Regions from separate parts of the Homo sapiens genome. Here region 1 is linked to region 2. The links come from fine-mapping of genetic effects on gene expression. Tissue or cell type: esophagus mucosa. Region 2 holds a variant in brackets; the other region holds the start of a gene. All regions are shown on one strand. Distances are from middle to middle.

Region 1 (4,000 bases), 110 kb before region 2:
GTGGAAAGCAGCTTGGAGATTTCTCAAAGAACTTAAAATAGAACTACCCTTCAACCCAGCAATCCCGTTAGTGGGTACACACCCAAAAGAAAAGAAATCTTTCTACCAAAAAGCCATCTGCACTCATATGTGCATAGCAGCACTATTCACTATAGGTTAGATATGGGGTCAACTGAGGTGCCCATCAATAGTGGATTGGATAAAGAAAATGTGGTACATTTCCAACATGGAATACTATGCAGTCATGAAAAAGAATGAAATCTTGTCCTTTGCAGCAACATAGATGCAGCTGGAAGCCATTATCCTAAGTGAATTCATGCAGAAACAGAAAACCAAATATGACATGTCTCACTTCTAAGGGGGAGCTAAACCTTGGGTACCCACAGATATAAAGATGGGAACAAAAGACATTGGGGACTCCAGAAGGGTGGGGGGAGTAGGGCAAGGGCTGAAAAACTTCCTATTGGGTACTGTGCTCACTACCTGGGTAAGGAGATCAACAGAAAACCAAACCTCAGTGTCACCCAATATATCCCCTAACAAACCTGCACATGTACCCCTTGAATCTAAAATAAAAATAAAAATAATAAGTTGTTGATTGGCTACACATTTTTCTCTGTATCACAAGTTGCAGGAACATGCAGATAATGGGTGAGGCAGTGAGTCAGGAACAAAATGCCTTTAAACCATGGCCCCCACGGCCGGGTGCGGTAGCTCATGCCTGTAATCCCAGCACTTTGGGAGGCCGAGGTGAGTGGATCACTTGAGGTCAGGAGTTCAAGACTAGCCTGGCAAACATGGTGAAACCCCGTCTCTACCAAAAATACAAAAAATTAGCTGGACATGGTGGCAGGCCCCTGTAATCCCAGCTACTTGGGAGGCTGAGGCAGGAGAATTGCCTGAACCCAGGAGGTGGAGGTTGCAGTGAGCTGAGATCGCGCCATTGCACTCTCAGCCTGGGTAACAAAGCAAGACTCTAAAAACAAAAACAAAAAACAAACAAACAAACAAAAAACTATGGCCCCCCAAGCACTGCAGGGGGACCTGGACTGAAGTCCTATACTACTGTTTCTCTGGGCCTGATATATTTTGTTGTATCTAAGCTGCTTTCCTCAGATACAAATCCTTCAACAAACCCTAGGGAAAATTTCCTCTCAAGTCCCTCCAATTCTCCCAGTTCTGCCACGCTTTGTACACCCCTAACGAAAGGGGCCAGGTGCAGTAGCTCAGGCACGTAATCCCAACACTTTGAGAGGCTGAGGAGGGTGGATCACTTGAGCCCAGGAGTTCCAGACCAGCCTGGACAACATGGCAAGACTCCTGTCTCTACAAAAACTACAAAAATTAGCTGGGTATGGTGGTGCACACCTGCGGTCCCAGCTACTCGGGAAGCTGAGGCCGGAGGATCGCCTGAATCCAGGAGGTAGAGGCTGCAGTGAACCAAGTTCAAGACACTGCACTCCAGCCTGAACAGAGCGAGACCCCTGTCTCAAAAAAGTAAAATTAAAAATGGGGCCCGGCGCAGTGGCTCACGCCTGTAATTTCAACACTTTGGGAGGTGGAGGCGGGAGGATCGTTTGAGGTTGGGAGTTCGAGACCAGCCTGGCCAACATGGTGAAACCCGGTCTCCACTAAAAATACAAAACTTAGCCGGGCTTGGCGGCGCACGTCTGTAATCCCATCTACTATGAAGGCTGAGGTGGGAGGATCGCTTGAACTCGGGAGGTTGAAGCTGCAGTAAGCCGAGATCGCGCCACTGCACTCCAGCCTGGGCGACAGCGCGAGACTCCGTCTCAAAATAAATAAATAAATACATACATACATAAAGTAAAATAATGAATAAATAAAATAAGAAATGGGGAAATGGATCAGCAAGAAAGTGCCCGCCCCAGGCATGGGTGCCGTGCGGGACGGGGACGCGGCCCAGCCGGGAATCGGGGTGCCCAGGGTGCGATGTGCGAGGGGCTCCTGAGCGCGTGTGCTCCGCCCGACCCCGCCCTGTCCCCCCGACACACAGGTGGACCCAGGGTCAGCTCGTGCACCTGGGAAATGGCTCCCGCCGGGTAGCAGGGGCGGAGGGGCGGGGCTGGGCGGAGGGGCGGGGGGGCGGGGCCTGCCCGGGAGCCACGTCCGGGGAGGGGCCAGGTGAGCGGCAGACCCGGCACGCAGGTGGGGGCCGGCGGGGTCCGTGGCCAGGTAAGGCGGGCGGCGGCGGGAGGGAGCGCGCAGGGAGGAGGCCGTGCTCGGGGTGGGGGGGTGCGCCGCGGGGGCTCCCAGGGCGTGTACGGGGACAAGGGGCCGCTGGCCGGGTAGGGACGCCCAGGCGGGCGCGACGCCACGTGCGGCCGGGGGGAGACCCTCCGGCCGGCGCGCAGCCTCCGGGTCCCCTGTGGGTTCTAGACTCCCTCTCCCTTCACCTCCTTTCTTTCCCGCCCCCCCACACTCCCCTCCTCTGCTTTTTCCCCTGTCCTGTTCCTTCTCACCCCGCACCGCCTTCCCCGCCCTCGCCTCTCTCAGCCTGCGTTTTGGTCTGGTCTGGCCGGACGGTGTCAGCTCAAATGTTCCTTTTTTGCTTCCGTCCTGGGGTCTCAGGTTAGGTCGGGTCAGCGCCTGGGGGAGGCACCTCCCCCGCCCCCACACACCCCAAACCTACAAGGTGGGTGAGGTCATTCCCGTTTCATAGATGAGAAAACGGAGGCCGGGGCAGGTGCTGCGCTGATTCAAACTCAGGGGGTGGGGGGCTGGCCGGTTCAACACACAGCGGTGGAACCCCCCGGGAGTTAAAAGCAGAAACTTTTTTTTTTTTTTTTGACACCGAGTCTTGCTCTGTCCCCAGGCTGGATTGCAGTGTTGCATCTCTGCTCACTGCAACCTCCGCCTCCTGGGTTCAAGCGATTCTTGTGCCTCAGCCTCCCGAGTAGCTGGGATTACAGGGACTGACACCATGCCAGCTAATTTTTTGTATTTTTAGTACAGACAGGGTTTCACCATGTTGTCCAGGCTGGTCTCGACCACCTGACCTCAGGTGATCCGTCTTCCTGGGCCTCCCAAAGTGCTGGGATTACAGTCGTGAGACACCGCGCCCGGCCTAAAAGCCCAAAGTTTAAACCAATCCGCTAGCAGCCTCGGAGGTCGTCAGGAAGGCAGGGAGGCCCTGCCTTTCACTTTCCCTCAATCCTGTGGGGGGTGGGGGGGCTCCTGAGAATCCCTCGGGCTCTGCCACACCCTGACTTGGAAATTTCTCCGCTGCCTTGGGAGGAGTGTGAAGGCCCCGGAGAAGGAACCGCAGAGTCCACCCGGGAAGGAGGGTGGGATTGTTTGGCGGGATGGGGACAGCACCTTGGCCACCGACTTCAGGGTTTTGTGACAGAGGCTGTGTAGATTCCAGAGAGCTCTGTGCCGTCCCTCGCTTGCCTGTGAAATGCAGTGTTGGCATTTGTCCAGCTGAGAACTCAATGCTTAAGACTCAGCCGTTTCAGAAGTCGATGTCCTTTGGTTGGCCTCTCTGTTGGCAGCTTTAGGATCATGTTTGTGGACTCCTCATTCGATTCACTGACTAACCATTCCCCAAACCAACGCCAGAGTTGGGGGTAGGGCGAAGAGGGACATGGGATGTGGGCCTGAGCCCAGCTGATTCTTGTGGACAGCCAGCTGCCTGGTCCCTGCCCTCAGGGGCCCAGAGTCTGGCTTCTGTGTAGAGAGAATCCAAGGGTTTGTGGGAGCTTAGGAAGGGCTTCCTGGAGGAGGTGGCCATTGAGCTGGAAGGTGGATGGGAGGTGGATGGGGAAGAGAATGGCACCTACTGGCTAGGGATACTTCGCTTGTGAGGTACGGGTGGAAAAGTCCATGGAGTGCCTGACGGGGTGGGCCAATTTACTTGGATAACATCATTGGGTCATTGAAACTTTGTGTGTGTGTGTGTGTGTGTGTGTGTGTGTGTGTGACGCAGTTTTCGCTCTTGTCGCCCAGGCTGGAGTGCAATGGCACGATCTCAGCTCAC
Region 2 (6,112 bases):
CCATTTGGAGCAAAAACCTGTGCAGCCAACAGGGGAAGGTTCAACACATCCACGTGGGTCCACCCCCAACCCCCAGACCCACGGCCTTGAATGTTTAACCCCCTCCATCTCTCCAGGCCTTCGCCCCAGGCTGTGCAGGGTGAGGAGAGCCTGAGCAGAGTAGGCGTCACATCCCAGAGTCTGTTGGAGAATGTCACTTCTTGGTTTTACAACAATTTTTTTTCTCCCTGTTGCTTGACATAATTTCTCAGAGGCCCAAAACTAAACTCTCCTAATTCTCTCAAAAAAATTTTTTGAGACAGTCTTGCTCTGTTGCCCTAGCTGGTGTGCACTGGTGCAATCTCAGCTCACTGCAACCCCAGCCTCCCACGTAGCTGGGATTACAGGTGAGAACCACCATGCCCGGCTAATTTTTGTTTTTTTAGTAGAGATGGGGTTTCGTCACATTGGCCAGGCTGATCTTGAACTCCTGACCTCAGGTGATCCACCTGCCTCGGCCTCTTAAGAGTGCTGGGATTACAGGTGTGAGCCACTGCACCCAGCCTACTTCTTTTTCATTAGGAGAGACTGATTTCTCTCTCTAGCCGCCACCTCCATGGGCACCGATGTGAATGCACCTGGTGGGGTGTGGTGTTGCGTGTTATCACCCCAGTGGCACCTGGGGGCCTCGGCTTGAGGAGGGGTGGCCTGCAGTGGGCCTGGCTGGTGCACACCTGCAACGGGCTTGGGGGACCGGCAGCCAGGGGGAGCCTGAAAGGCATCCAGCCATCTCACCTGAGCATCCTCAACAGATCTGTGAGGGTGGTGCCTGGCCCTGCCTCCCTCCAGTTCTCTGCTCTGCCCTGGTACTCACCGCCTCATGACCCCTGTTTCTGACTGAGGTTCCCCCCAGCTTGAATCTTGTAGGGAGGCAAGGAGCAGAGAACAGGCCCTGCCCTCACGTTGGTCCACATGGCCCCCTGCCACTGGCTGGCCACATGACCTTGGGCAAGTCTCCTGTACCTTCCAGGCCCCAGATTCCTCATCTGTAAGATGGGGAGTAATGACTCCCCCGTGCTGGGGTTGCACGTGTTGGCGGAGATGGACAAGGAGCCCCTTCTAGCAGGCAAGCTCTTTCCACTCTCCCTGCCCCTCGTAGTGGCCCCTAGATGTGCTGGCTGGTCCCCATCATGCCCAGTTCGCCACTCACAGAGCCGAGGCCAGAGAGGTCACCAAGTTCGTACCGTCTGTGCTACAGCCCATCCCCAAGATTGCATCTCCCCAGAAGGTGCAGTGGAAGAGGAGATAGTGGGGGGTTGAGGCTGTCACAGAAGGTCAGAGCCAGAGGGTCCTCCAGGACATGGAGGCCAAGCCTTCCTTTTAGAGATAGGGTAACTAAGGCCCTGAGTGGGCAGGTGGCTGCACAGGGTCCCCATTACTGGCTGCCGGCTCCCAGTCCAGTGCTCCTCTCACTACACCTACGCCTCTCCCTAAGTTCGGGAGGGAGTTCCAGGTGCCCGTGCCCCTTGGTGTTCACTCCCCTTTACTTGTGTGTGGTTTCCTCCAGGTGTCCCGGGAGAGCATCTTCAACAAAATGAACAGCTCTAACCTGGCCTGTGTCTTCGGGCTGAATTTGATCTGGCCATCCCAGGGGGTCTCCTCCCTGAGTGCCCTTGTGCCCCTGAACATGTTCACTGAACTGCTGATCGAGTACTATGAAAAGATCTTCAGCACCCCGGAGGCACCTGGGGAGCACGGCCTGGCACCATGGGAACAGGGGAGCAGGGCAGCCCCTTTGCAGGAGGCTGTGCCACGGACACAAGCCACGGGCCTCACCAAGCCTACCCTACCTCCGAGTCCCCTGATGGCAGCCAGAAGACGTCTCTAGTGTTGCGAACACTCTGTATATTTCGAGCTACCTCCCACACCTGTCTGTGCACTTGTATGTTTTGTAAACTTGGCATCTGTAAAAATAACCAGCCATTAGATGAATTCAGAACCTTCTAATGAAAACTCCATGCCTCTGGTCCTTGGACTCTTGTCCATGGTTCCTGAGCTGTGGACCGGGATAGAATAATGCATTTGTTAGGATGGATGTTTTGAATCCCAACCCAATGTGGTTTAACTGAAAACAGGAATGGAGTGGCTAACGGCTGCCAGGTCCTGCTGCTGCCACACTGCTGTGTAACACACCACCTAAGCCCAGTCACTGAAAGTTACTGCCCAGGAGTCAGTGGGTCAGCTGGGTGGTTCTATTGGTCTTTTGAGGGGGTCACTTACATGTCCTGGCTGAGCTGGCTGGCAGCTGGGGTGACTCTGTTCTCCCCCAGGTGTCCCAAGTCCTTCCAATGGCCAAACGGGGCACATTCTTACAACATAGGTCCAGGTGCACACACAAGCGCTATTGCAAGCAGTTTTCATGCTTTGACTGGCGTCCTGTATGCTCACATCTCATTGGCCAAAGCAAGCCTGGTGGCCAAGGCCAGGGTCACAGAGGGAGGGCCCTGCAAAGGGGGTGGATATGGGGAGGGTGAAGAATTGGGCATAAAGCAGCCAAGCTGCCCGAGGGCTCTGGGGTGCGACAGGACTCTGCAGTCTCAGGCAGGCTGACTCTTGGGCTGGCAAAACGGGCCCTGTATTTCCATCAGATATGGTAGAGAAGGATACAACTTCTTAGTGCCACA[G/C]TCCCAGCAAAAAAGCCCCAGGTTCACCCTGATTGGACAAGCCTAGGTCACATGCTCACCTTAGACCCATTGCTGCAGCCAGGGAAGGCTCTGATTGGCTTAGGCCTGAGTCTTGTGCCCCACCCAGACCAGGCAGTGGGGGAGGAGTGGCAGGCCGCTGCAGGGGATTACCCACGAGTCCCACGCTGCCGTCTCCCCAGCTCTTGATGCAGGGAGAAGCGGGGGAGGTTCTGGGGAGCAAAGGACAAAAGTCCCCTCTACAGATCCCCCATGGTGGCCCCTCCGTGCCTGCTTGGGGTGTTGACCGAGTTGTGCCGGGACCCCCGGTACGCGTTAGGATGCTTGGGGGAATCACTGGCAGCCCCAGGCCAAACCCACACCCAGGGCTCTCCTCTGAAACTTAGAGGGTGCGGTCTCCTCGCTGGCCTCCCTCTTCACTTGTGTGTCTTCCCATTATTCCCCTGCCCCTCATCTGCCGCTGTGTGTGTTCTACCCTGCTGGTGCTCGCTGTCCTTAAGGGAGGGGCTCGTGTGGCTGCTGAGCGACCCCCCACGCCCTGCCTTCAGAACATGGATGGTACAGGGTCACGGGCATGGGGACAGGGATGGGGAGGGTTGCAGAATGGCCGTTACACCCCCTGGTAAGCTTCGTGCCATCCCAGCTGGGGATGGAGTCCCCAAATGACACCCCTCTTCTCTGCCCAAGCTCAGAACCTACCTGAGTCACACGGTATATTACTGACGGCCAATGCCTATGTTCTGCAGCAATCTCAATCCTTGCCTCCTCAGAAGAAAGAGTTCGACTGGCCGGGCGCGGTGACTCACGCCTGTAATCCCAGCACTTTAGGAAGCCAAGGCAGTTGCATCACCTGAGGTCAAGAGTTCGAGACCAGCCTGGCCAACATGGTGAAACCCCGTCTCTACTAAAAATACAAAAAATTAGCCAAGTGTGGTGGAGCACACCTGTAGTCCCAGCTACTCGGGAGGCCGAGGCAGGAGAATCGCTTGAACCCGGGAGGCAGAGGTTGCAGTGAGCCAAGATCGTGCCAGGGCATTCCAGTCTGGGCAACAGAGTGAGACTCCGTCTCAAAAAAATAAAAAAGAGAGTTCAACTGAGGGGCATAAGGATGAGTGAGAGACCGAGGACCGAGGCAAGTTTTAGAGCAGGAGTGAAAGTGTATTAAAAAACTTTAAAGCAGGAACGAAAGGAAGAAAAGTACCCTTGGAAGAAGACCAAGCGGGCGACTTGAGAGATCAAGTGGGTGGTTTGACCTTCGACCTAGGGTAGGCCGGGCACAGTGGCTCATGCCTGTAATCCCAGCACTTTGGGAGGCCAAGGCAGGTGGATCACTTGAGGTCCAGAGTTCAAGACCAGCCTGGCCAACATGGTGAAACCTTGTGTTTACTTGTCTACTCAAAATATGAAAATTAGCCAGGCAGGGGGGCAGTGGGGCCAGGGGGATGCCCAAGCCCAGTCACTGAAAGCAACTGCTGGTCATTACTGCCCATGAGTCAGTGGGTCAGCTGGGTGGTTCTATTGGTCTTTTGAGGGGATGGCTTACATGTCCTGGCTGAGCTGGCTGTCAGCCAGGGTGACTCTGTTCTCCTGCAGGTGTCCCAAATCCTCCAACGGCTAAAAGGGGCACATTCTTACAACACAGGTCCAGGCGCACACACAAGCGCTACTGCAAGCAGTTTTCATGCTTTGACTGGTGTCCTGCATGCTCACATCCCATTGGCCAAAGCAAGCCTGGTGGCCGAGGCCAGGGTCACAGTGGGAGGGCCCTGCAAAGGAGGTGGATAGGGGGAGGGTGAAGAATTGGGCATAAAACAGCCAAGCTGCCCGAGGGCTCTGGGGTGCGACAGGACTCTGCAGTCTCAGGCAGGCTGACTCCTCGGGCTGGCAAGATAGAAGCACAGGGCCCATCAAATATGGCGGAGAAGGATACAACGTCTTAGTGCCACATTCCCAGCAAAAAAGCCCCAGATTCGCCCTGATTGGACAAGCCTAGGTCACATGCTCACCTTGGACCCATTGCTGCAGCCAGGGAAGGCTCCGACTGGCTTAAGCCTGAGTCCTGCGCCCACCTAGACCTGGCAGTGGGGGAGGAGTGACAGGCCTCTGCGGGAGATTACCCGCAAGTCCCACGCTGCGGTCTCCCCAGCTCTTGCTGCAGGGAGAAATGGGGGAGGTTCTGGGGAGCAGAGGACAAAAGTCCCCTCAGCAGCGTGGGTACCTGACCGGGCCTTGGATGAGGTCCTTGGTGGCCAGGAAGTAGTATTCCGAGGCCCAAGTAGGGCATGACCCCAGACCCGGGGCAAGGAGGGGACTGGTCCATGCGGGCCCAGCATGGCAGGGAAGGCCACTGGGCTTCACCCCAAGCGCCCCCCTTGCCCACTCACCGTGTGCAGGAAGCCCATGAGGTAGCGGAGGACGACACAGTTGTGCTCCAGTGCCCCGTAGGATGGGGCGGCAGCGAGTGACGCGCAGGCTGCTCTCCACACCTGGAAGGGCATGGGGCTCCCTGCTGAGCTCCAGAGGGGCCAGGGGCAGCGCTGCATCCCGGCCCAGGGGGAGGACAGGGGCGTAGGGAGGACAGCTCTGAAGATGGACTGACTGTCCCACAGTCGGGCTTGAGACCCCCACTTAACTTTCTGGCCGTGTGTCTCTGCTCAGCAAACTTTGTGTTTGGCCGTTCTTGCATTGCTATGAAGAAATACCTGAGATGCGGTCATTTATAAGAAAAGAGGTTTAACTGGCTTATGGTTCTGCAAGCTATACAAGCATGCCACTAGCACCTGTTCAACTTCTGGGGAAGCCTCAGGAGGCTTCCAATCATGGCAGACGGCAAAAAGGAAGGAGGCGCATCACATGGCAAAAACAGGAGCAAGAGAGAGTGTGGGGCAGAGGTGCCACATGCTTTTAAACCAGATCTGGTAAGAACTCACTCACTGTCTAGAGGACAGCACCAACCCATGAGGTATCTGCTCTCATGATCCAATCACCTCCCACCAGTCCCCACCTCCAACCTTGAGGGTTCCAATTCAACATGAGATGCGCTGGGGACTGAGATCCAAGCCCTATCACCTGAATTCTGCAAGCTCCGTCCCTCTGCTTTATCAGCCAGCAGCACCACCTTCCAGGAAGCTGCTAAAGCCGAATCACTTTATAAATGGGAGTGGTCTAGACCAGGGGTTGGCAAACTACGGCCCATGGCTTAGATCTGGCCCACTGCCTGTTTTTGCCAATAAAGTTTTCTTGGAACACAGCCACGGACATTTTGTACATTGCCTGTGGCTGCTTTTGCCTCATCAGGGCAGAGCTGAGTAGTTGCAACAGAGACTACAAGGCCCACAAAGCCTAACATATTTACTATCTGGCCTTTTACAGAAAAAGTTTGCAACCCTGCTCTAGACGAACTGCCTGCTCACGATTCTCAGCACCACAAA

Evidence for each region. PIP is the estimated chance that this variant, and not a neighbour inherited with it, causes the effect.
Region 1: it holds the start of ARHGAP8, and the variant in region 2 is fine-mapped to the expression of ARHGAP8 in esophagus mucosa (GTEx, PIP 0.93).

The regions. Positions count from the first base shown.
Region 1 is chr22:44,750,432-44,754,431 of GRCh38, forward strand. ARHGAP8 (Rho GTPase activating protein 8) reads left to right here and starts at 2,144. Exons shown (of 12, transcript NM_181335.3): 1 at 2,144-2,196. The region is part of intron 4 of PRR5-ARHGAP8 (PRR5-ARHGAP8 readthrough); the gene reads left to right.
Region 2 is chr22:44,860,729-44,866,840 of GRCh38, forward strand. It overlaps PRR5-ARHGAP8 (PRR5-ARHGAP8 readthrough), which reads left to right. Exons shown (of 15, transcript NM_181334.6): 15 at 1,547-2,056. The coding sequence ends at 1,867. It overlaps ARHGAP8 (Rho GTPase activating protein 8), which reads left to right. Exons shown (of 12, transcript NM_181335.3): 12 at 1,547-2,056. The coding sequence ends at 1,867. It overlaps LOC105373062 (a long non-coding RNA gene), which reads right to left and starts at 3,511. Exons shown (of 4, transcript XR_938302.3): 1 at 3,381-3,511; 2 at 2,723-2,893; 3 at 2,260-2,483. It overlaps LOC124905133 (a long non-coding RNA gene), which reads right to left. Exons shown (of 4, transcript XR_007068129.1): 1 at 5,066-6,112; 2 at 4,688-4,833; 3 at 4,225-4,447; 4 at 3,551-3,585. RefSeq lists an enhancer at 2,845-3,598. The variant G/C (reference allele first, on the strand shown) is at 2,664.